7 linked regions of the Homo sapiens genome follow. The protein of the gene in region 1 interacts with the protein of each later gene in a pairwise test. Each region holds a gene or a part of one and is shown on either strand. Other genes may lie near its edges. The genes, in order: PRPF40A, RABGAP1L, PCYT2, DZIP1, DNAJA3, KCTD17 and SDF4.

What was found.
Region 2: the proteins of PRPF40A (region 1) and RABGAP1L interact in binary tests that used the Homo sapiens proteins (3 or more experiments, as listed by UniProt).
Region 3: the proteins of PRPF40A (region 1) and PCYT2 interact in binary tests that used the Homo sapiens proteins (3 or more experiments, as listed by UniProt).
Region 4: the proteins of PRPF40A (region 1) and DZIP1 interact in binary tests that used the Homo sapiens proteins (3 or more experiments, as listed by UniProt).
Region 5: the proteins of PRPF40A (region 1) and DNAJA3 interact in binary tests that used the Homo sapiens proteins (3 or more experiments, as listed by UniProt).
Region 6: the proteins of PRPF40A (region 1) and KCTD17 interact in binary tests that used the Homo sapiens proteins (3 or more experiments, as listed by UniProt).
Region 7: the proteins of PRPF40A (region 1) and SDF4 interact in binary tests that used the Homo sapiens proteins (3 or more experiments, as listed by UniProt).

What each region holds. Positions count from the first base shown.
Region 1 is NC_000002.12:152,661,962-152,665,461, forward strand, and holds part of PRPF40A (pre-mRNA-processing factor 40 homolog A), read right to left. Parts: intron 2,292-3,500; coding exon 2,177-2,291; intron 2,019-2,176; coding exon of another isoform or gene 2,007-2,018; coding exon 1,915-2,006; intron 1,811-1,914; coding exon 1,694-1,810; intron 1,212-1,693; coding exon 1,074-1,211; intron 738-1,073; coding exon 642-737; intron 1-641.
Region 2 is NC_000001.11:174,274,520-174,278,019, forward strand, and holds part of RABGAP1L (rab GTPase-activating protein 1-like), read left to right. Parts: intron 1-580; exon of another isoform or gene 581-670; intron 671-1,313; coding exon 1,314-1,416; intron 1,417-3,500. UniProt on the Homo sapiens protein: GTP-hydrolysis activating protein (GAP) for small GTPase RAB22A, converting active RAB22A-GTP to the inactive form RAB22A-GDP. Plays a role in endocytosis and intracellular protein transport.
Region 3 is NC_000017.11:81,904,900-81,908,399, forward strand, and holds part of PCYT2 (ethanolamine-phosphate cytidylyltransferase), read right to left. Parts: intron 2,959-3,500; coding exon 2,874-2,958; intron 2,700-2,873; coding exon 2,655-2,699; intron 2,359-2,654; coding exon of another isoform or gene 2,305-2,358; intron 2,000-2,304; coding exon 1,861-1,999; intron 1,648-1,860; coding exon 1,565-1,647; intron 1,279-1,564; coding exon 1,201-1,278; intron 837-1,200; coding exon 771-836; intron 549-770; coding exon 483-548; intron 256-482; coding exon 167-255; intron 46-166; coding exon 1-45. UniProt on the Homo sapiens protein: Ethanolamine-phosphate cytidylyltransferase that catalyzes the second step in the synthesis of phosphatidylethanolamine (PE) from ethanolamine via the CDP-ethanolamine pathway.
Region 4 is NC_000013.11:95,620,707-95,624,206, reverse strand, and holds part of DZIP1 (cilium assembly protein DZIP1), read left to right. Parts: intron 1-1,726; coding exon 1,727-1,864; intron 1,865-3,500. UniProt on the Homo sapiens protein: Molecular adapter that recruits protein complexes required for cilium assembly and function to the cilium basal body.
Region 5 is NC_000016.10:4,435,868-4,439,367, forward strand, and holds part of DNAJA3 (dnaJ homolog subfamily A member 3, mitochondrial), read left to right. Parts: intron 1-1,534; coding exon 1,535-1,618; intron 1,619-3,500. UniProt on the Homo sapiens protein: Modulates apoptotic signal transduction or effector structures within the mitochondrial matrix. Affect cytochrome C release from the mitochondria and caspase 3 activation, but not caspase 8 activation.
Region 6 is NC_000022.11:37,058,242-37,061,741, forward strand, and holds part of KCTD17 (BTB/POZ domain-containing protein KCTD17), read left to right. Parts: intron 1-1,071; coding exon 1,072-1,197; intron 1,198-2,581; coding exon 2,582-2,681; intron 2,682-2,862; coding exon 2,863-2,934; coding exon of another isoform or gene 2,935-3,297; coding exon 3,298-3,388; coding exon of another isoform or gene 3,389-3,500. UniProt on the Homo sapiens protein: Substrate-adapter for CUL3-RING ubiquitin ligase complexes which mediates the ubiquitination and subsequent proteasomal degradation of TCHP, a protein involved in ciliogenesis down-regulation.
Region 7 is NC_000001.11:1,216,431-1,219,216, forward strand, and holds the end of SDF4 (45 kDa calcium-binding protein isoform 2 precursor), read right to left. Parts: exon of another isoform or gene 2,504-2,786; intron 2,498-2,503; coding exon 2,339-2,497; intron 2,204-2,338; coding exon 2,028-2,203; intron 1,375-2,027; coding exon of another isoform or gene 1,259-1,374; coding exon 1,082-1,258; 3' UTR 501-1,081; downstream 1-500. UniProt on the Homo sapiens protein: May regulate calcium-dependent activities in the endoplasmic reticulum lumen or post-ER compartment. Isoform 5 may be involved in the exocytosis of zymogens by pancreatic acini.

The sequences.
Region 1 (3,500 bases):
GAGTGGCTGGGATTACAGGTGCCCGCCACCACTCCCTGATAATTTTTTTGTATTTTTAGTAGAGACAGGATTTCGCCATGTTGGCCAGGCTGGTTTCAAACTCCTGACCTCAGGTGATCAGCACACACCTTGGCCTCCCAAAGTGCTTGTTTTACAGGCGTGAGCCACCGTGCCCAGTGAACCTTACCTATTAAAGTGACCTGAGATGTTATTGTTTCATTGCTTATTTTAACAAAAACTTACCATTTATTCCATTACTTTCCAGAAACTTTCTTTTCTACACAGCTAATGTGGTATAATACCTCAAATGTGCCTAAAAGCTGTCTTCTATCTGCTTTACAAGAAAAATTTCAAGTTTTCTTTATTAGTCAATCAATCCATGTGGCTGCCAAACTGCTCAATTTCTAAAACTTTCTAAAAATACAAAACAGTCTTCACATACAAATCTTTATATTCCCATGGAAACTTAATAGTTTCTTTTACTTAAAAGCAGTTTTTATAGGAAAAAAACCATTCTCTAACCATCCAGGTAAGTACATTTGTATAAAAGCAGTGAATATTAAGCAACATACTTTCATCATTCTAAGTTCTTCAATTTGTTTATATTTTATATATTTTGTATATGAGAATTCTAAAATTACCTCAAGCACATGCATAAAATCTTTAAATATTCGTTTTCTTTCAGATTCTAGAGTTATGTCCTCAAATGCTGGCTCTTTTACAAATCTCTCACGGATCTGAAAAATTCAGATACAAAATAAATATATGAATACCAAGAAAAGTACAACGATACATCTAAAATAAATCATAACAGCAAGTGAAAACTGTGATGAATCAGTCCCCTTAAAGTCCATTATTTCCTCCCTTCAAAAGTCCAAACCATTCTTTACAAATATTCCTAAACAGAGTCAACAGCTGATTTAATGCTTTTATTATATTCTAAATATATTTAATATATTCTACAAATAAATTTAGCTTATTTTTGTGGCTATAAAATGAAAAATAAAAATATTTTAAATTTCTCAACTGTAAAGAAAAGAATTCCATTAGAAAAAAATAACAAGTATACATACATCTTCCCAGACAGCATCCAATTCTATCGGAGGAGCAGCTTGTTTTAACATACTCTTAAATGCAGATTCTTTTCGTTTCATCTTCCGAGCCTCTTCTTTTTCTCTTTCACGTTCACGGGCTTCTGCCTTTTCTAGTAACTATTAAGAAAATCATATTTAATCAGTTATAATAGTATCATAACTATTAGCTGAAATAATTTATTGTTAATTTAGGAATCACGCATTGTTTAAAACGAGCTTGTCCAACCTGTGGCCCAGGACCGCTTTGAATGTGGCCCAACACAAATTTGTAAACTTTCTTAAAACACTATAAGGATTTTTTGCAATTTTTTTTTTAAGCTCATCAGCTATCGTTAGTGTACTTTATGTGTGGCCCAAGGCCTGATTTATAATGGCCATTTTATGTATAATACCAGTTAATTTGAGCAAAGGAAGTTTAATATCAATCCATCATCTAAATAAAGTTTTTTGTTTTACCTTACCTGAAAGACTGGCTACCACTCTGTAAAATTCTATTCATATTCCCTTATTCCAACACTCTGCAACTTAGCTGCTTTTATCTGAATAAATTAAAAACTATACTACTAAACTAGTTACTTACAACAGAAAACATAACTTACACTATTGAAAGCCAATTTGATATTTCCAGCATCTAATGTAGTTGATCTTTTAGTTGAACTGATTATCGCCACAAAATCTTCAAAAGTAGTGTTTACTTCAACTACAAATCCTTTATCCTAAAAAAAAGAAATCTTAACATTAATAATGCATAAATCAAAGGAATACAGTACTAACTTTTAAGATATACTATTGGTTAAAAGGTAAGAATAAATATATTTACCTTTAGAATGTCTTTTATTATCTTCTTCTCGTCATGATAACGTGCTTTAAGATCCTCAACATAAAACTTGAAAAGATCAAGTGCAGTTGATCCTAATGAAAAAACTAAAGAAGTCAAAAGCTAGCTCTAACCAAAGAGCTGCAATTACTTTGTTGTTTAAAAAACAAAAATAAAGCACCCTTTCCCCCAACACAATCACCTTTGCATTTGGCCCATTTCAACTACTACCATAACGGTAAATTAGGAAAGAAAATAATCTTACCAGGCTGACCAAGCATATTAGTGAATCTAATATCAGAACTAATAGTTGGATACAATTCCATCCAAGATGACATAGAATGCAGTTGTCCATGTTCATGTAATTCATCTAAAAATATCTAGGGAGAAAAATTATATTTGGAAAGTCATCTCGAGTACATGAGAAATAAGCGTCTAACATGAAAACACACAAAAACTTTGACATAGTTAAAACTCTTCTACCAATGTTATCCCAAACCTGTTTGGGCACAAAGAATATTTGCTATTTGGGCAAAGTAACAACTGCCTCTAGGCAAAAAAATATTTTGTCCTTTAGAGAAAATAACTTTTGAAACTGCACATTATCTTCCTAAGGTTCTATTTCCTACCCTTTAAGATAGAACCTAATTTTTAGCTTTAAAAAAAAAAAGGTAAAAGTTAACTTAAATTACTGGATATCTACCTCAAATGATGAGGCTAAAGAATGTATATGCATGTTTCCTTAAATATATACTTTCTGTCTTTAAAAATAGTGCCTAATGTGTTCTAGGTATTTTTATTTACTTTTAAAAAACAAGGGGCCTTAAGAGGAGGATGTATAATTTTCCCAAAGTAGTTTGGAGACCTAGGATTCAAACCCATATCTAGTTTCAATTTCCACACTTCCTGCTTCCAACCCAATCCTCAGGGAGTTTAATCCTATACACCAGGGGATCCCAACCCCCAGCCACGGAACCGGAACCAAGCCACACAGCAAGAAGTGAGTGGTGGAACAAGCATTACCGCCCCAGCTCCACCTCCTGTCAGATCAGTGGCGGCATCAGATTCTCATAGGACTGCAAACCGTATTGTGAACTGAGCATGCCAGGAATCTAGGTTGTGTGGTCCTTATGAGAATCTAATGCCTGATGATACCAACTCCCCACCCCACCCCACCAAGAAAAACTGTCTTCCACTAAACCGGTCCCTGGTGCCAAAAAGGTTGGGGACCGCTGCTATACACAAATGTGCCTAAAAGAAACTGTAACCCTATATTCTGTTCCCACAATTCCTATACCTGCACTGTTCAATAAGGTAGCCACTGACCAAACGTAGCTTCTCGGTACATGAAATGTAGCTAGTCTGAGTTGTGATGTGCTGTTAAGTACAAAATACACAATGATCTTGAAGATTTAATACCACAAATATTAGCAATTTTTAAAAATATTGATGTGTTAAAATAATATCTGGTTATATTGGGTTAAATTACTAAAATAAATAGGAAATTAAAATCGCATTTGTGGCATTCACATTTTTATTGGATAGAGCTGTCCCAAAGTAACATCAGGCACTTACAACTGCACTCACTC
Region 2 (3,500 bases), on another chromosome or scaffold:
AAGTACGGTGTATTCTATTTGCATAAAGAAATCACTTAATGACACATAACTTAGAACATAACCCTATCATTAAGCAACAGGTGACTCTGTGTGTGTGTGTGTGTGTGTGTGTGTGTGTGTAGAGGAGAGAAAGAGACCATTATCATATGAGTGTGTTGGGGCTGCTGAGAGGGTTTCGTTTACAAGTGACCTTGAGTGTATTTCATCTCTGGAATGCATGGTCCCTGCGCTCAAGCTACACAATCTGATTAGTGAAGTATTACTAATACACTAGAAAAATATACATAGTAATTACCAAATGACTGACACAATTTTATAGGGGGTTCAGAGAAACATCTGTGAATGGGTAATAATGAAAAAAGAAAAGTTTTTCTCTTTGTTTTAGTCTGACCCTTTTAACAGTCTCTATTCATAATGTGAGGAAATCGCTACAAAAACTGAAATATTGTAGATACTGTTCATTTGCATATGGAAATACTTGTATGCTGTGTGTTGTTCTTTCATGGGACAAACTCTACCCCTCCTCTCTCCACACACATATACACAAGCTATAAGTAGCCTAGCTTTCGCCATAGGAGTTGCTGGCTTTTTTAGTGAGAGTCAAGAGCTGGCTTGGTAAAGTCTTAAAGAATGGAGAAGAGGAGGAAGGAGAGAAGGGAAGAAAGAGGGAGTAAGTGTAACAGTAGAGGGAGAGAGTTAATACACTTGGATGCTGCTTACAAACCAAAAATTAGTCTCCTAATACTAATTTATGATTGTAAGAAAGTATATAAATATCTGACATATAGAAAATAGACAAGTGTTAATTTTAAAGGTATTAATTGCTACAAACTAAATTAATATTTTAAGAATTCATTAAAAATTAGAATATTAGAAGAAAAATATTAACTTTCCCTACTGTGATTAGCTACTAGTTCAGTTTAACTGTCTTCAGCTAATTCTATATTATTGTTTTAATAGAAACCATATACATTCTTATGTGTATATGAGATTTGGACAATTGGTGTCAAGATCAAGTTAAATACAACTTTGTAACAATATTATGTTTTTTTGATTCAGCATGTAAGTATATGCCTCCTTTTATCCAAGGGTACATGTCTTTAAATAGAAACTGTGCTTGAAGAAAGCTGTAGAAGAATTTAATATTTAAATAAATGCTTTTGTAGGATGAAAAGAATTTACAGTGAATATAAAGCTCCTGCTTGACTGTTAATCTAAATTTTAATAATTTGTATTGCTTAAAGTAAGATGTAATTTAAAGTAGTGATTTTTTTGATGTCTTTTATCAGTAATTACTGTTTGAATTTTTATAGGAATCCATGGGAAAGAGCTATGATGGGAGAGCTTATGTCATCACTGGCATGTGGAACCCCAATGCACCAGTATTTCTGGCACTTAACGAGGAAACCCCAAAAGGTGACTTTTCTTAAAAGATCCCTTATTGTTTGCTTTACATTTTATATTATGAACAATGTTGCTTGTCATGTTTTAAAAAAAATTTGGAACTCAAAGTGGACTTATTCTTTCATTGAGAATTTGAGGTTCATTTTTATTCTTTATGCTTCTATGGGGGAAATCTCCACTATTTAAAAAAATCCTCCCCAAAAGATATGTGAATTATTATTATTGTTATTATTTTAAGAGACAGGGTCTCACTCTGTTGCCCAGGGTAGAGTATAGGGGCATTATAGCTCACTGTAACCTCAAACTGTCATGCTCAAGCAATCCTCCCACCTCAGCCTCCTGAGTAGCTATTAAATAGAACTACAGGTGTGTGCTGCCATGCATGGCTAATTTTTAAATTTTATTTTTGTAGCGATGGGGTCATGCTTTGTTGCCCAGGCTTGTCTTGAACCTTTGACCTCAACTGATCTTCTTGCCTTCCAAAGCACTGGGATTACAGATGTGAGCCACTGCACCTGGCCTGAATTAATTTTATTAGATTATAGAGAAAGCATTTGGGCTTTGTTTTTCATATACCACTATAGAGTTATTTCATTTGTGGAGACTAGTGATGGAGAAATATTAAAGAAAATGATGAAAAGGAAATATTTTAGAATTTTGAATATTTTTAAATTATTAACTATTTTTGCATTATAGTTTACTTATAGTTTTTCATTTATTAATTATTGGCTCCAGTCTTTTGGCCTTCGGGATGCTTGTAATATATATTAAATATTTCAGTTGTAGCAAATAGTTTTTTCTTAGTTTTTTAACTTTTCATATTATTTATCATGTCTAGTATTGAACAGAATGTATAAATGTTGAATAGTCACATTTTTCGTTGTTCCATTGTGTTTTTTCATTCCTACTTCATCCAGATAGCTGTTAATTGCCTGTTTTTTGCCCCTTCATTATCTACTTTTAAACTAAATTTAAAGTTTTACCTGCCGAGTTATATGCCTACCCTAAGTGCTTTACTGTCATTAAACCATTAATTCATATTTAGAATATAATGGATCAGTTTGTTTTATCATTAATTTTTATATTATTTAGTTTATACCCACAGTAGACTTTTGGTTACTGACAGGAAGCATTCGTGAATACTGATATGAAAATATAATATGTTAATGAAGGGCATTAAAATGATAATTATTCTTTCATTTCCTTAAAGAGAGTATTCACCATTTATATAAATCACATACATTGATCACATATTAAGCTGTCTAAAAATAAAGGCTAAACAGAAAAAAAGATTATATAAAATTTAACTTTTCATTTATTAGCAGTAAATAATTTTTAGACCCACAATTTGTTATTTCTGGAGACAGGCTTGCAAATACCTGTAACTTCTTTCTTATACTTGTTCAGAAGGAAGCCACAAAAATGATAAAAATAAGCCAGTTGACAGTTTTGAAGAACAAAATATAAGAATTTTGCATATCAAGTTATAAAAATAGTTTTTATGTTTTTAATGTAACACCTAGTTTAGTTTTATTTTGCAATAAAATATATATTTGGTCCACAAAAGAAAATTTATTTATAATTTATTCTATTAAACTATATAATAGTATATTATAATATTCTGATTCAAAGTATACATTTTAAATTTAACATTATCTCATATGCCACACAAAAATGTTGCCCTGATTTTTAAAATTTCTAAATTATGTCCTTGAAATTACACATTACTCAGAGAATGTGTGATCAAATAAAGTTTGATTTTTATGGAAGAAGTTTAGAACCTGAGAGATGAAAAGTCTTGGATCTTTCCACTGCACTAAGATCCAGTTGAATGTTATATTCTGTCTTGTGTTATTACTCCTTACTCCTTTCTCTAAGGTCCTCCAGGTCAAGTATAATGTCTAACAAATTTTAGTTTCTCTTGAATTGGCAGGTGTATTTAGTAAGACTGTATTTAGTAAGAATGTAATAAAATTGTTATTGAATTTGAGAAGTAGTTGATGAATCTGAATGTTATATAATATTTAAAAACACTATTGAGGGTTTCTTCTAGTGGTGGCCTTGGTTATTTGGACTTTCCTTTAACAGAGAACTAA
Region 3 (3,500 bases), on another chromosome or scaffold:
AGCTCCTTGGCTTCCTTCTTCTGGTTTCGCGCCTCATACTCCAACCTGAGAGGGCAGGGTAAGTCTAGCAGAGAGCGCCCATGAGGCGGCTCCGAGGGGGAGGGCACGGTAAGTCTAGCGGAGAGCGCCCATGAGGCGGCTCCGAGGTGCCCCCACCCAACTGCACCTGTTGGTGATGATCCGCTGGACGATGAGGTCTGTGGTGAGGTTGCTGCCACTGTCAATCTGACGGAAGATGCCCCTTCTCTTGGGCTCCTGGGGGTCCAGAGAGGAGGAGCGGGATGAAGGTCCCTGCTGACCTCCCCAAGACCCATCTGATGCCCTGCCCCAGAGGGAGACCAGCGCCCAGGGTCCCATGGGAGTGGTGCAGTCGGAGCAGCTGCGCCACCATGCCCGTTTCCCAGGCAGGCACAGTGAGTCATTAAATGGCTGGGAGGTGCCAATGGCAACCCCTGTGCCCAGCAAGGGCCAGCATGACCCACCTGGTATGGGTCGGAGCCATCCCTGTCAGGGATAATTTCTGTCTTGCCGTGACACACCAGGTCCACCTGGAGAAGGAGTGGGGTCAGGAGCCCTCCCCGGGGAGGCAGCGGCCGTCGCCACCCACAGCCCAGCACAGGCCCCGGGGGTTGGGAGAGCTGACCCTGCCCTTTCCTCAGCCCAGGTACCTCCTGGGCCCCGCCTAGGAGCCCACAGCCAGCCTGCATTCCCAGCCCATGCAGGAACAGAGGTGAACAGAGGGAACGAGGTGAGCCCATGCGGAGCCTCACCTTGAAGTGACTTAGGAGCTCTGCTGTGACCGCGTACGGGGCTCCAATCACCACTTCTGACACGTACTGTGGGGACAGTGGGGGCAGAAAGACTTGCTCGGTCCCTGCTACTGGTAAGCCAGGGCCACAGGGTGGTGAGAGACGGCTCAGACATGGGGCGGGGCTGCCAGTGAGTAGCAGGGATGGGCTGGGCAGGCTGGGGACCCCTGGGGCTCCTCCATGAGACAAGAAGGAACAGCATCTGGAGACCTGACCACCCCTCCTCATGCCTCAACAAACAGGTATGGGCAGGTGCCACAGAACTCGGGGTGCTGGGTGCAGCTCTGCCAGTGACCCAAGCCCCCCTGCCCTGGCTCAGGGAGGCCCTTAGTAGGGGGGATGTTGTGGGAATGTCTCCCCATCCTTGGGCTGGCTCCTGGCCCCCACTCACCCGGCAGGCCAGCACGCTCAGAGTCCGTTCATGCAGATTCATGATGGGGTAGTTCTTCCCCTTGTAGTGATTGACCTCCTGCGGCCAGAGTGCGGCTAGCTCAGCCCGGAGACTTTTTGGGGGGACAGGGTGTGCCCCTCCCGGCTGTCCCTCATGGGAAGAAGTCGGGGAGGTTGCTCGCCCTTGTGGGGATGCCCCAGACAGGACAGCCCTGGACCCCAGAAGCCTACGATCACCCCCCAGGGTCTCCTGTGACTTCACCTGGGGCCCCTTCCCAGAGACCACCTGCACCTAACAGCAACGCTTAGGGCCCCTCGAGGGCCCATCAGCTGCCCAGGGGCCCAGGGAGCAAGAAGGCAGTGACCTGGTCAAAGTGTAAGCCCGCGATGATGTAGGGCCTCTCTGCCAGCCTGTGCACCTTCTCCAGGAAGTCCACATGCCCGATGTCTGCACCCAGGTTAAGAAGCAGTCGGGATGGGGATGACAGGGAGCAGCTCCCTGACAGCTCATGCCCAAGGGCCTCCCCGCCATCCTCCCTGCTGACAGCTGCTCCCCTGCAAACCAGCCAGCCCAGTCTGGGGGCCCCAAGGAGTCAAGTGAGGCCCCCGGGTCCCACCCCATGTGGCACATGTAGGGGAGCAGCAGAGGCCCAGAGGATACGGAACAGGTCGAAGGCACCAGCCACATAGATGACTGTCTCCCCTGGCTGGGGCTCCTTCCCAGAAGCAAACTGGATGATCTTCTGAGATGTCTGCAGGAACTGGGATACCCCGGTCCAGGGGTTCCGCCCACCAGGGCACTGCAAGCCAAGAGAGGGAGCAGGTTGGCGGGGGAGGCCTCCCAGGTGCTGCCCTCACCAGGTCACCAAACCCTCAGCTGTCACCTGCCAGCAATCCCATTTCCAGCCAGTCATCTCGGGCAGGGGACACACTGCCAGGCCAGGTGGCAGGTGGGACTGTGGCGCCACCCCACAACCACAGCAGGCACCGCAGCAGACACCACTTCAGCCCAGCAAGCGACCACCAGGAGGAGGCAAGGAGCCCTGTGGCAGGTGCACACAGCCCTTGGGAGGGACCTGGTACCCTGAGACCACTGTCTGGTCACCTGGGAGCAGCCTTCTGAGGAAAGTATGTCCCCGGCGGGTATCGGGTGAGGGGGCTACAATGGGAGAGAGGGCCAGGCCACTTGGTTAGAGGCCACCTGTCCACAGGCAAATCCTTGCTCCTCCAAGCAGTGGCTGCCGTGACCGGCCAGCCGGTGCCACCACCCGCCTGCCCTCCCTCCCAGCATCCACCAGTGAGCCAAACCTGGCAGTCAGTGCCTGGTCAGTGCCAGGGACAGAGGGAGGAGGGTGAGGCTCTGGGCTGGCCTTTCCCCAAGGGATGGCTGGGACAGGTGGCCGGGGGAGCCCCCTGCAGCTGCGTGCTCAGCTCTCCCTGCACAGCCGCACTCACCTTGCCAAAACTGTCTGCATACTCCCGGTACTCAGAGGACATCTCCTGCACAGAAGGTCAGAGCAGGGCTGAGGGGCCTGCCCTCCCGGCGTGGCCACCCCAGAACCGGCTGGGGATGGGGAGCAGTGGGCAGGAGGACCCTGAGAGGGCAGGGAGGTGCCCCTCCTTTCCCCTGGAGACCTCGACCCAGGGGCCTCGGGGATTCCGCCGCCGACTCACCTGGCTGCTGTGATGGGCTTTGGTTACCAGCAGCATGCGGCCCACGAGGTCTGTGGTGGACACCCCTTGCGTGCGCTTGCATTCTCTGGGGGACACAGTGGGAGTGGGGTCTCATCCTGGGACACTCGCAAGGCTCTGCCTCCTGCTACCACCACTAGGGACACTAGCAGCCCTGCTGTGGCAGAACCCACGGCTGCCCCAAAGACTGAGGGTCCCCTTCCTGTGCAAGGCCATAACAGAAAACCTGGGTTGGGAACATGGGGAAGGCCTCCACGCTTTTATTGACTGAAGGGAGTGGCAGGAGCACAGAAAAGGACCCTTGCTGGGGCCCAGGTGTGCAATGCCAGGGAGAGGATGGGCACTGGGGTAGCAGCTCTGCTTCCTGCCTCCCTCACACCCACGTCCTGCCCGCTGAGCATCTGCAGCTGAGTGAATTCTCAGCTGCAGCATCTCATGCGGGAGCCACTGGCCTCATGTCCCTGACGTCTGGTAATTCAGATATAGTGCCAGCTCCCCAGCAGTGCCAGCCACGTCCCCCGAGCTCAACAGCTGCCACCTCACAAAGCTGTGCCTTTGGAGCCCTGGGGCCATGGGTCTGCAGCACCAAATGGCAAGGGCCTCCAGGCC
Region 4 (3,500 bases), on another chromosome or scaffold:
CCTGGTTAGACTTGACCTGAGTCTTCTTTGGGGAAAACGGAGAAAGGAAGGGAGCTGAGCGAAGGTCCTTGAGCTCCCTCTAGGGGCCAACAAGTTTTATAAACGAAAATAGAGATTTTTGGAATTCACCTGAGGGCTTTCCTAAAACTCTTTAAACTCTAGCGTGAGATTTGGCGAATGGCCCATGAACCAAGTCCAGCATACCACCTGTTTTTGAATGGCCTCTGACATAAGAATAGTTTTTACATTTTTACTTTTTATTTTTTTCAAGACAGAGTCTCTCTCTGTTGCCCAGTCTGGAGTGTAGTGGCACAATCTCAGCTCACTGCAACCTCTGCCTCCTGGGTTCAAGTGATTCTCGTGCTTCAGCCTCCTGAGTAGCTGGCGTTACAGGCACATGCCACCACACCCAGCTAATTTTTGTATTTTTAGTAGAGACGGTTTCACCATGTTGGCCAGGATGGTGTCGAACTCCTGGCCTCAAGTGATCCTCCCACTTGGGCCTCCCAAAGTGCTGGGATTACATTTGTGGGCCACTGTGCCCAGCCAGTTTTTAAATTTTTAAAACATTGGAAAAAAAGAAGACTATTTTGTGACACAGGAAAATTTCATTAAAGTTCACATTTCAGTGTCATGAGTGAAGTTTTATTGAAACACAGCCATGTTTGGTAATTTACGCTCTGTCTGTGGCATTTTTGTGTGGGAGCAGTAGAGTTGAATGTTTTGTCTGAGACTTTGTGTTACGAATCTGCATGACTTATAACTGTTGCTATTGACCTTGGCTACCTGGCTGTGGTAGTGTTTGTCAGGTTTCTCCACTGAAGATTTTCTCTTTTTTCCTCCTTTCCCTGCTGTCCTTTCTGAAATGAAGTCACTATGAGCAGCCTACACTGAGGAGAGGAGACGTGCGCTCCCCCATACTTTTGTTTTTGAAGTTAATGTGTTACCTTCTGTGGTTTTCTGAGGGTTTTTGCCATGAGTAACATTGGGAATAATATGAAAAGAAAAGGGTAAAATTAAAAACGTTATGTCCCCAGTGGATTTACTGATGTGGTCCCTGGACAGTGTTGGCCTCTCACTAAACTAGCTTAAGAACCAGGTGCATTCAGTTCTTCTGTTTCTGGTACCTATTAAGTGCCCATAAAAAATTTTAAGCCCCAGCTGGGCCTGGTGGCTCACACCTGTAATCCCAGCACTTTGGGAGGCTGAGGTAGGCAGATTGTTGTGTGAGCCCAGGAGTTTGAGACCAGCCTGGGCAACATGGCAAAACCCTGTCTCTACAAAAAAAATACAAAAATTATCTGGGTGTGGTGGTGCACGCCTGTAGTCCCAGCTACCTAGGAGGCTGAGGTGGAAGGATTGCTTGAACCCAGGGGGTTGAGGCTGCAGTGAGCCATGATCATATCACTGCACTCTAGCCTGGGCAACAGAATGAGACCCTGTCTCCAAAAAAAAAAAAAAAATTAGACTCGTTTAAGATTAGAAAGTTAGATTTTCCTTCCCCTTTTTTCACCCTGTACATATTCTGATAGGAAGACCAGCAAGCAGTAGAAACAAACCAGTAAAACCACAGGGAAGCAGAAGCAGGAGAAGCGTCCAAGAGCGTCCAGGAGCGTCCAAGAGGGCAGTCAGATTTAAAACACAGCTATGTGCTCCCTGATTTTATTCTCTGTTTCCATCTTATGAAAGTCTAACTGTAGTACTGAGCTTGAATTTTATCTTATAGCAACTGTCAGAAATCCAGAAGTCCAATATGCAGATCAAGTCCAACATAGGCACATTAAAAGATGCACACGAGTTTAAAGAAGACCGTTCTCCATATCCCCAGGATTTCCATAATGTCATGCAGCTTCTTGATAGTCAGGTACGTGCAAGTGGGTGACAGCTGCAGTGGATGCCTTCCTTTTTCTTAGTGAAGTAATTTACAGTGAGTGTCATCTGCAGAAAAAGTGTTTGTCTTTTTTAGTAACCCTGAAGGTGACTAGCTGTTATTTTTCTCCTACAGCATGCCTAAATCATAAGAGGTGTTTGTTACATGCTTGCTGTTGGCAAATAGCATACACAACAGTTGGCAGAACTGTTTTGTTTCTTCTCTCCATAAAGTCAATTTGAATTGGTTAGTATAACCTAGCTATTCATTTTTCATCTTTCAGATGTAGCTCTCAATTTCAAAAGGTGTAGAAGGGCATATTGAAGCACCAGATTTAATTTTAGAGTTTAAATATACTGCTAACTGTATTTTTAGTAGAAACGGGGTTTCACCATATTGGCCAGGCTGATCTTGAACTCCTGACCTCAGGTGATCCGCCCACCTCGGCTCAATTAACTGGGCGTGGTAGCAGATGCCTGTAATCCCAGCTTCTCGGAGGGCTGAGGCAGGAGAATTGCTTGAACCCAAGAGGCAGAGGTTGCAGTGAGCTGAGATCACGCCATTGCACTCCAGTCTGGGCAACAAGAGTGATACTCAGTCTCAAAAAATAAATAAATAAATACACACACACACACACACACACACACACACACACACACACACACACACACTGCTAACTGGTCAGCTGATGATCTGTTACATTTATCAAACATAATCACTTTCATTTGGAAGTGACAGCGGTTTAGGGGAACAATTTTTTTAAACTAGGAAGCAAATAGAGATGAGAGCTTATGAATTCAGGATTCTTTTTTAAAAGCCTGGGTCATTCTAAAAAAGGTAAGTAGACTTTGGAAACAGGGACCACTGCTTCTTGCTTCAGTGCTCACATGTTTCCTCCCTGACCCAAATCTACCTGCTCCACTGCAGTCAGGCTGACCATGTCCCTGTCCTGTCTGAAGTCCTTCAGTGACCCTTATTCCGGACTTCCTACCAGCACGCAGGGTCCTTCGGATTCTGGGCCCTGGGCCATCTTTCTCTGTTCTTTGCTTTCCTGGCACTCCAGCGGCCCAGCAGCCCATGCCTCTCAGAACATGCCCTTCTGTCTTTTTCCTCGGTTCTGGCTGCTTTCCTGCCTGTCCTGCAGCTCCCAGTTTTCGGGACCTGTCTTTTACTCATTCTTTAGTATTCAGCCAGGGGGGCAGGTACCGCTTTCAGAAAGTTCTCCTGAGCCTCTAGGCTATAGCATTTCTGTAGTCCCTAAGTGGGATCTGATGACATACACATTATATGTGGATTCTCCATGGCTGTGTCTACTCGCCTCCCGTGCAGAGCAGGGCCTGTCTTTTTATCTTCTTTTAGCCTGCCAGTGGCCATCCAGTGAGGTGCCTGGTATATGGTAGGAAACCAGGAGCTGTGTCCTGAACTGAACTGTTGACAGTTGCTTCCAGCAGGCTGTAGACTACAGCTGGTCGCTCATGAACTGAAGGATGTGGCTCTAAAATCCTAAGGTCCCACCTAAATTTCTTCTGTTTCTGTCCTGTGAGTTGTGTTGTCAGTTCAGAACCCATGGCCTCAGAAACCTTGGTGTTTCCTTTTGGCCTCTTAGGTTGGCAAACTAGCACCTCCTTTT
Region 5 (3,500 bases), on another chromosome or scaffold:
CTGGATGTTTAACCTTTTGAGAAGCTGCCAGCCTTTTTCAAAGCAGCTGCACCATTTTACATTCCCACCAGCAGCATATGAGGGCCATGATTTCTCCACATCCCAGTGAACACTTAACTATTATCGTCTGTCTTTTTAATTACGACCCTAGTGAATAAGAAATGCTATCTCGTTAGAGTTTCGATTTGCTTTTTCCCTGATGACTAATGATGGTGAGCATCTTTCTTGTGCATGTTGGCTATTAGTATGTCTTTGGAGAAACGTGTGTTTGGATCCATTGCCCACTTTTAACTGGGTTGTCTTTTTTTTTTAATTGGGTTGTAATGGAATGAACAGAGGCATGGGGACAGGAAGCAGAGATCCTGGCCTGTGAAGAGCGAATGGCCTGTCTCTTCCTGAGCTCAAGAGTCAGGTGCCTGATCCAAGAGTGGGAAAAGATTGAAAAGATGGAGGCTGGGTTGGACTCACATGACAGTTGATTTGAGGCCCTTAGTAAGTCCCAGAGACATAATTTAAGAGAAAGACTTAATTTAGAGAACCATTCAGATTTTTAGGCACGGAAGTAAAAAGATCAGGTAAAGCTGTAGCAATTACTGTATTTTATTTACCTACAAAAATAATTGAAACAGCAGAGACGTCTATTTATTCAGTCATTTTCTTCCCTTTTTAAAAATTTTTTCTTTTTTCAGACAGAGTCTCGCCGTGTGGCTCAGGCTGGAGTGCAGTGGTGCAGTCTTGGCTCACTGCAACCTCTGTCTCCTGGGCTCAAGCAATTCTCCTGCCTCAGCCTCCCGAGTACCTGTGTTTATAGGCGCGTGTGACCATACCTGGCTAATTTTTGTATTTTTAGTAGAGATGGGGTTTCGCCATGTTGGCCAGGCTGTTCTCAAACTCCTGACCTCTGGTGATCCACCCAGCTCAGCATCTCAAAGTGCTGGGATAACAGGCATGAGCCACTGCGCCCGGCCCCCTTTTTAAAAATTTGTTTTTCTTTTTTGTTCATTTACCTATTCTAAGCCATGCTGGGTGCTAAGGGCAAAGATACATCAGAATCAGTTCCTGCCCTCAAGTTAAGAGATGGATACATTAAAACAGATCATTATTATTATTATTTTGTGGGGCGGACAGAATCTCACTCCGTCACCTAGGCTGGAGTGCAGTGCCTCGATCTCTGCTCACTGCAACCTCCACCTCCCAGGTTCAAGTGATTCTCGTGCTTCAGCCTCCTGAGTAGCTGGGACCACAGGCATGTGCCACCACGCCTGACTAATTTTTTCTATTTTTGGTGGAGAGGGGTTTCGCTGTGTTGCCCAGGCTGGTGTTGAACTCCTGAGCTTAAGTGATCTGCCTGCCTTCACTTCCCAAAGTGTTGGGATTACAGGCGTGAGCCACTGCACCCAGCCGAGAGACAACTTTTATAAAGGGAACATAATTATGACTGGTATTTGGGGTTCTGTTGTATCGGGGGTTTTGTTGTTTCTGGTATTTGGGGTTCACATTGTATCTGGAGTAATTTATCATGTTTTTCCCTTAGCTTGCCAAGAAGTATCACCCTGACACAAATAAGGATGATCCCAAAGCCAAGGAGAAGTTCTCCCAGCTGGCAGAAGCCTATGAGGTAATATGACTTCGGTGCATGCGGTCACTGCTGTTCAGCTATGTGTATGAATCAAAGGTTGCATTGCTACCTGGGACAGCCTGGTGTGTCATACAGTCCAGTGTGAAGGCCATGTCCCTGCGCCAAGTAATCTTGTTAAGAAAAATAAAAAAAAAGAGATTCCAGGCCAAGCATGGTGGCTCACTCCTGTAGTCCTAGCACTTTGGGAAGCTGAGGCAGGAGGATCACTTGACCTCAGGAGTTGGCTTGACCCTAGGAGTTTGAGACCAGCTTGGGCAATGTAGTAAGACCACGTCTCTACAAAAAAAAAAAAAAAAATCACCAGGCGTGGTGGTGGCGCACCTGTAAACCCAGCTACTTGGGAGGCTGAGTCAGGTTCATCACTTGAGGGGCTCAAAGCTGCAGTGACCCATGATGCCATGATTGTGCCATAGAACTATGGTCTGGGCAACAGAAAAAGACCTTCTCTCAAAAAATAAAAAATTAAAAAAAAAACAAAACAACAACATTCTAAGACTAACTTGGAATCTCAATGAAGAACAGGATCCAGGCCAGGCGTGGTGGCTCATGCCTGTAATCCCAACACTTTGGGAGGCCGAGGCAGGTGGATCACCAGGTCAGGAGATCGAGACCATCCCGGCTAACACGGTGAAACCCCGTCTCTACTAAAAATAAAAAAAAATTAGCCGGGCATGGCGGCATGCGCCTGTAGTCCCAGGTGCTGGGGAGGCTGAGGCAGGAGAATGGCGTGAACCCGGGAGGCGGAGCTTGCAGTGAGCTGAGATTGCGCCACTGCACTCCAGCCTGGGCGACAGAGCAAGACCCCGTCTCAAAAAAAAAAAAAAGAACAGGATCCAATAATCTGTACTAATAAAGTTCCCCAGGTAATTTACACTTGTAGCTGGATTTGGGAATTCACAGTTGGATTAATTAATTCAGCCCTTATTCAATGACATCCCCTTCCTCCACCTCAGGGCATCACTGCTTTTTGGGGATAGAGGTTATTGTAAAAGTAGAAGCCCATTATTGTCCTATAAGAATGTCAATGTAATCAGAGGACAAAGCATACATCTCTGAAAACAGCTATTGACCCCACTTCCATAGTTTTCTGAAAGTAGACCTTTTTCCCAGATTTTTTGACAATCTTTTCTTTTTTTTTTTTTTTTTTTGCTTAAGAGACAGGGTCCCTCTATGTTGCCCAGGCTGGTCTTGAACTCCTGAGCTGAAGAGATCCTCCTGCCTCAGCCTCTCAAATTGCTAGGATTATAGGTGCAAGGCACCAGACCTGCCCGACTTTGGCCATCCTAAAGGGGTTCAGTATATATAGGAGCTCATATATCTATAAGAGTAGACAGCCACGTAGAAGAACAGGCTCAACTCAGTAAATCTTTTTTGAGTAAATATCTGTCAACTAGATCTAATGAAAAGTTTATTTACTAGTGTAATTTTAAAATAATATGTTCTTATTAGGTAACTCAAACTAATTGATAACATAACTAAACAGTCTTGGAACCTGCTTCTATGGAAGATAAGATTAATTTTTTTTTTTTTTTCAAGAGTTGAGGTCTCAGCCAGGTGCAGTGGCTTACGTCTATAATCCCTATAATCCCAGCACTTTGGGAGGCCAAGACAGGCAGATCAGGAGGTCAGGAGTTTGAGACCAGCCTGGCCAAGAGACCAGCCTGAGCAATATGGTGAAACCCCATCTCTACTAAAAATACAAAAATTAGCCAGGTGTGGTGGTGGGTGCCTGTAATCCCAGCTATTCAGGAGGCTGAGGCAGGAGAATTGCTTGAACCCGGGAGGCATCAGTGAGCCGAAGATTGCGCCATTGTACTCCAGCCTGGGCAACAGAGCGAGACTCCCAATCAAAAAAAAAAAA
Region 6 (3,500 bases), on another chromosome or scaffold:
GTCGGAGCCCCCAGGATGGCCTGGAGGGATGGAAGAATGGGCCTAGTGCAGAGCCAGAGGCCTGGCTTCACCTCTAGGCCTTGCCACAGACATGCCTGCCACCTTGGGCAAGTTACATCTCCTGTGCGGGACCCAGTTCCCTCATCGGTGAAGTGGGCTAACAGTACCTCCTCTGTAGGACTCTTGTGAGATTAGAAGGGCCATCAGTAAAGCTTACAGCCCTCCGTAGGACTCCCTATGTTGGCATTAGTGTCATGCAAATCATTAGAAATCCATATTGAAGTCTGCAACACTCAGAGAGGACTTGGGATCCCCGATGCCATTCCCTGCTCCACCCCTTCCTAGCTGTGAGGCCTTCAGCAGGCCTGAGATTCTCTTCAGGGTCCCTGAGAGCTGAATGAGACTCATCACCTGGAAGAACTTTCTTATTTCTTAGCCAGAAGGGCTCTGTGGGCGTGGTTATTCTAGGGACCCTGGAACAAGGGCAGGGCCACTCTGAGAGCCTCTGGGTGTCTTTGGCAATTGCACAGGCTCTCAGAGGCTGAGCAAGCAGGCCAGGGACCATTGGTCATTTGCCCTTTGGTCTCAGGAGTGGACCACCTGTCGTCCCACCTCTGCTTCCAGGAGTGAAGGGAATATTCTGTGGGGCTCCACCTTGCCAATGCCACCCTGCAACCTTGTCCTGGGGCTGTGTCAGCCACATCTGGAATGGGGGACAGCCGCCCTTTAGAGGCCTCCGCCTGCATTTAGAAAAGGGCCCCCTGGCTCTGGGGCTAGGCTGGAGGTGGTGGTGGGGACAGCGGTAATGCTGCCACCCTCCACCAGGGATCGGGCCAGCCAAGCCAGGCGGAGGGGCTGGTCCTGGGGCACAGACCACAGGCACAGGTTGCAAGGGGGAAGACTCCACCTTCCTGCCCAGAGGTGCCCTCTACAAACCCAGGAGTGGGCCCGACAAGCCGCAAGATTAGGACCTGAGCTGGTATCTTGATTTGAGTGCCGAGGTCTGTCGTATCCTGCCCCACGGCCCCCAACACCAACCTGCATTTTTCTCCCCATGCTCCGCCCCTCTAGCTGGTGAACATCGGCTCCTCCTACAACTACGGCAGCGAGGACCAGGCAGAGTTCCTGTGTGTGGTGTCCAAGGAGCTCCACAGCACCCCAAACGGGCTGAGCTCAGAGTCCAGCCGCAAAACCAAGGTGAGCCCACCCGCCTCAGCCTGTGTCCGGAGAAGTCTCCTGTCTCCCTCCACCCTCCCCGCCTGTCCCGCCCCTGCGCCTGCACCATCCCTCCACCTCTCTCCCGCCACCGCCCATGCACAACCCCATGCTCACAGCCACCGCCATCCATCCCATGCCACCTGCCGTTACCCAGGCCCAGGCTGGGAGCAGTGAAATGAGAGCATCCCCAGGGTGCAGCCGGCGTGGACTCAGAGGCTACATGAAGGGGGCCGCTTAGTGGCCACTGGGCACTGTGGCATGGACTAGGGGTCAGGGCACAGTGTGGCACTCTCTGTGTGACTTAGGACAGGGCTTGTCCTCTCCCAGCACCTTTGCTGCACTCTCTGAAGTGAGAGGGGAGGATCACATACTCTTTGTAGTGCCTTGGAGCCTGGAACTTCTGGGATCCCAAATGGCCGTTTATTCCCCAGGGACAGGTGCATGTCCCCAGCTGGCCTGAGCCAGGATGAGGAAGCCACCGCTGTAAATCCTGCCCCTTTCCCAGGCCCCCTCCTTGGCTGCTCTGCAGGATAGGGGCAGCCTGGTGGCTGCCAGTCCTGTGTGTCCGCCTGGCCTGTTGAGGCAGCCTCCTGAGAGCACCCTGGCAGCATCCACTGTACCACTGTGGGGAGAGGGCTGAGCGGGGGTCCTGCCATCCTGGACCCAGTGCTGTGGGAAGTCCCAAGGGCCTTCGCAGAGCCACAGAGCAGGCGTGAACCAGGCTGGGAAGAAGGCAGGCTGCTCCTCCTGGGGCCCAACCCCACACAGTGGAGGCTTACCTCTGGCTTCCTGTCTATCTGTCTGCCTCCCTGTCCTGCTGTGACGCACCCTGCCTGCCCACCCACCCCCACCACTGCCAGGGCTGACGCTGCCCTGCAAGGGTGCAGAGCGAGACTGCTCCTTCTGCCTCTTTGGGCCAAAGCCCCTGGACCTGGGGTGTCAGAGACTGGCTGGCATCCCAGATCTGGGTGGTGTCTGCCCTGGGGCTTCCTTGGCCACATTTCTACTGAGGAGCAGTCTTTCCAAACAAGGCCTTCCCAGGCACCCCTCAGGGATACCCCAGTCCCACACCCTCCCTGTTCTGCTTCATCCCCTCCCTCCAGCCTCGCTCTATGTAACAGCAGCCAGGCTGACCCCGGAGCATGCCCACAGCATCCCATCCTCAGCTGCTTTCCCCAGGCCCTCCCCAAGCTGCCCAGGGGACCGGAGAAGATGCCCCCAGCTTCTGTGGCTGGAGCCCTCCCCTCTCCTGAGGTCCCTTTCACCTTGCCTGAGACCGGGTCTTTGGGGATAGCCAGCAGGCCCTGGCCCCTCTGTTAGTGTCTCCACTCTTTCTTCCCTGGGTCCGCCGGCTGGTTCACAGAGCACGGAGGAGCAGCTGGAGGAGCAGCAGCAGCAGGAGGAGGAGGTGGAGGAGGTGGAGGTGGAACAGGTGCAGGTGGAGGCAGATGCACAGGAGAAAGGTGCAGCCAACCCCCAGGAGGATGATTGCTAAGCAAAGCCGGAGCCTCCCGCCCACTCCTTGCTGGAGCCAGCTGCAGAACCGGGGGCCCCGGGGCTGCTGGGGGGGCACCAGGGTTAGCTCAGCCACTTGCCTGGCGCCTCACCCGCATAACCATCCCTTCTCTCACTTTCTCTTTGCAGCCCAGTCATCTCAGGATCCCGCTAACCTTTTCTCCCTCCCACCACTGCCTCCTCCTCCGCTTCCCGCTGGAGGTCCTGCCTCATCTTCATCCACCTCTTCTTCCTCCTGGATCTCATCTGCACCCTGCCTCTTCCCTCTCTGCCCCTGTCCGGGTTTTCTCTCTGCCTGCTCACGCCTCCATCCCGGGTCTGCCCTGGTCCCAGCCTCCCGTGCCCTCCACCCAGGCCCCCTGGCCCTGCATCCCAGAGCGTCCTGCCTGCCGCCTCCTGCGCCCCTTCTGGTACCTCCTGCCTCCCAGCCTGGGGAGGAGGGGCGCAGCTGCACCTCCTCTGTGCCCACTAACCCTGCCGGGCACCTCTGAGACTGGGCCCTGGCTGCAGGCCCTGCCCCCCCTCCTCTCCTCCCGGCCTCCTCCTCACGTTTCCTCCTTGCAGGTTCCCGTCCGCACCCTCTCAGACCTGAGGCTGAGCTTGCAGTGAGGGCTTCTCCTCGGCCCCTCGCCCGCCCCCAGAGCTGCCATCCCTGGTTTGTAGCTTGGCGGTGCTGGAGGGAGGGGTGGAGCGAGGAGGGTGCTCATCTCTTGATCCTTGGACTTGAGCCGAGCTTTCGGCTGATTATCTCCACCCACCAAAGTTTC
Region 7 (2,786 bases), on another chromosome or scaffold:
CGGTCACATGGGCACCACAGGGCAGACTGAAGAGGACACACTCCCGGCTTCCCTGAGCTCCCACTGGGAGAGCCAGGACACAGCCTGGGCCCCCACACGCCACAGAGCAGGACCCCCACCAGCCGTCCTAACACACCCCATTCTCTGCCCCATCTGGGGCTAGGCCTGCCCCACTGCACCCAAAGACCTTGCCATCCTCCACCCAAAACCCCCAGGCGGCTCTGTCTCCTGCCTTAAATGTCCAAACCCCAAACTCAGTGGGCACGTCTGCTGCCCCCTGACCCCTACTCACAAACGCAGCGCTGCCCTCCGTCCTCCCAGAGCCCCTGCCCGTTGCCACCTGCCAGGAGAATCACCTCGAACCGGCCATGACCTCCAACCCTCCACGTGACCCAGCACCAGCCTCCAGCGCTCCAGTGGAAACTGTAACCACAAACCTAGCACGCTGCTGTTGTGTTTTGTTTCACGCCCAAAGAATGAAGCTGACCAAAAAAGGCAACTATATTTAAAGTAAATGTATGTGATTCTTGTCACAACAAATATTTGCATTTTCTCAGCGGCAGCTGCGGGACCTGGGTGGCTCCGACACGCCAGGCCCGGGAAGGACCCGGCACCCTCCCCTGAACTTCCTGGCTACTCATTTCCAGCGAAGTTTAATCTATTTTTAATAATCGTTCAGTTTTCAAGGAAATGGAGGAGCTGTTTTTTCCCACGGAGCGGCGGCCCTGGGAGGGGCCGGGCCCAGAGGTTCCGGCCGCGATGCCGTCAGCGCCTTCGGCAGAGTGACTGAAGCGAGATTTCGTTCTCAGAAGTGAGATGCCACGATTTCGAGGGACCAGGGAGGAGGCGGCGCCGCGGGGCCACAGCCCAGCCCCGCGCCCCGACCGCGTCACAGCCAAAGCCCCGCCGGGGTGCGCGCTGCAGAGGGGACACGCCGCTCATCAACTGGGGCAGCCGCGGTCGGTCGGCCGGTGGCGGGCGGCAGGGAAGAGGTGGGGTCCGGGACAGCCACGGAGCCCGGAGTCACCCGCGAGGCCGCCCCGGTGGTGCGTGGGGGGCGGCGCGGGGCGCGGCCGGGCGCTCAAAACTCCTCGTGCACGCTGCGCGCGTAGTCCACCAGCTTGCTGCCCGTGAAGAACTCGCTGTACTTGAGCACCTCCTCGGGCTCCAGGTGGTGGTTCTGGTTCTCGTCGGCGACGGCGATCATCTGCTTGGCCTCGTTCAGCGCGTTGTACTCGTTCATGGGGTCCATGTAGCTCTGCGGGCGAGCGGGGCACAGGTCAGCGTCGCCTTTCCCCCTCCGAGCTCCGCGGCCAGCCGCACGAAGTGGCTATTTAAGGTGCCTATTGGCTGCAGCGGGAGTGTGGGCACGTTCTGGAAGGTTCCCGAAGGGAGGCGGCACAAATGAAAACACAGGGCAGGGAGAAGCCGGGGGCCCCGGAAGGCCTGCCCGGGGCCAGCAGGGGTAACGGGGCACAGGGGCTACACAGGCCTGGACCCCAGTTCTGAAGGATCCCTAACCTGGGCCGGGCCCACTGGCTGTCGCCAGGAATCACAGGATTCTACATAAAAACAAGATGACTCACTCAGCAGTGGGAGAAAAACAAGCCTACACATGATACCAGTGAAAACGCTTCAGAGGAAGGTGGTAAATTCCAGCCATGTGGCACAGGCCGCCCCGCCCACCTGCACCTGCTGGGCCTTGGACCTGCCTCCATGCTGGGCCCAGCATGAGCTTCCCCTTGTGGTCCCGTTAAAAAGGGGCTGTGAGAACCCTGACGCCTCCGCAAGGGGCTGAGGATGGAGCCCGGCCAGGCTCGCCTGTCTCTGATCCGTCTGAACCTAAACGCCAACAACGGCCATGCAGCCTGGTGGACACCGCTGAGCAAACGCCCCAGTGACCAGCCCAGATGGAGTCTCAGGCCAGACACCAGCACAGCTTCCTGCCTCAGGCCCAGATCCACCAGCCCCTCCCGCCACAGCACCTCGCAGGGCCGGCTCCGGGACACGGCTGCGCCAGGGCTCACCTCCAGCTCCTCGGCGGTCACGATGCCGTCGTGGTTGGAGTCAATGAGCTCCTCAAACTCCTTTTTTCTGTCTTTCACCCAGTTGTCGTCAATGTCCTGGCCCTGCTGGTTCTCCACGGTGCCCACGGGCAGGGAGATGAACTCGGGCACAGAGAGCTGCTTGTCACCGTCCTGGTCTGCGAGACGGGAATGGGTCAGCCCACACCCAGGCTGGGGCTCCCGCAGGACCTGCCCCGACCTCCCGACGATGCCCGGCCCCTGCCAGTCGGTCCTGGGTCCTGGCGTGCCGGCCAGGCTGGACCCAGCCTCACCCAGGTCCCGGACGATCTCCTTCACCATGAACCTGAGCATTCCCCGGCTGTGCTCGGGGTGGAGGAACGACAGGAACTCCTCCTCCGTCAGCAGCAGGTCTGCAGGGGGGCTGTCCGCCTGGTACCAGCGGTCCTTCAGGTTCTCCAGGACTTCCTGTGCTGAGAGGGGCGCAGCCTGTGGGTATCGAGGCCGACAGACGCCAGCACGCAAATCCAGAAAGTTCCGAGAGGTGCTGCCTGAACTCGAGGGACACAGCCACCCGCGAGACCGGGGCCCCACCCTCCAGGATTCACACGTCCCCAGAACATGGCCCAGCCCCTAAGACACAGCCTGGACCCCCGCCAAGACATAACCCAGAGCCTCCCACAGGCCTGATCCCCAAAGGCATAGCTTGGACCCCTCCACACAGCCCGGACTCCCCAAGACAGCCTGGACCCCCCCCTGCCC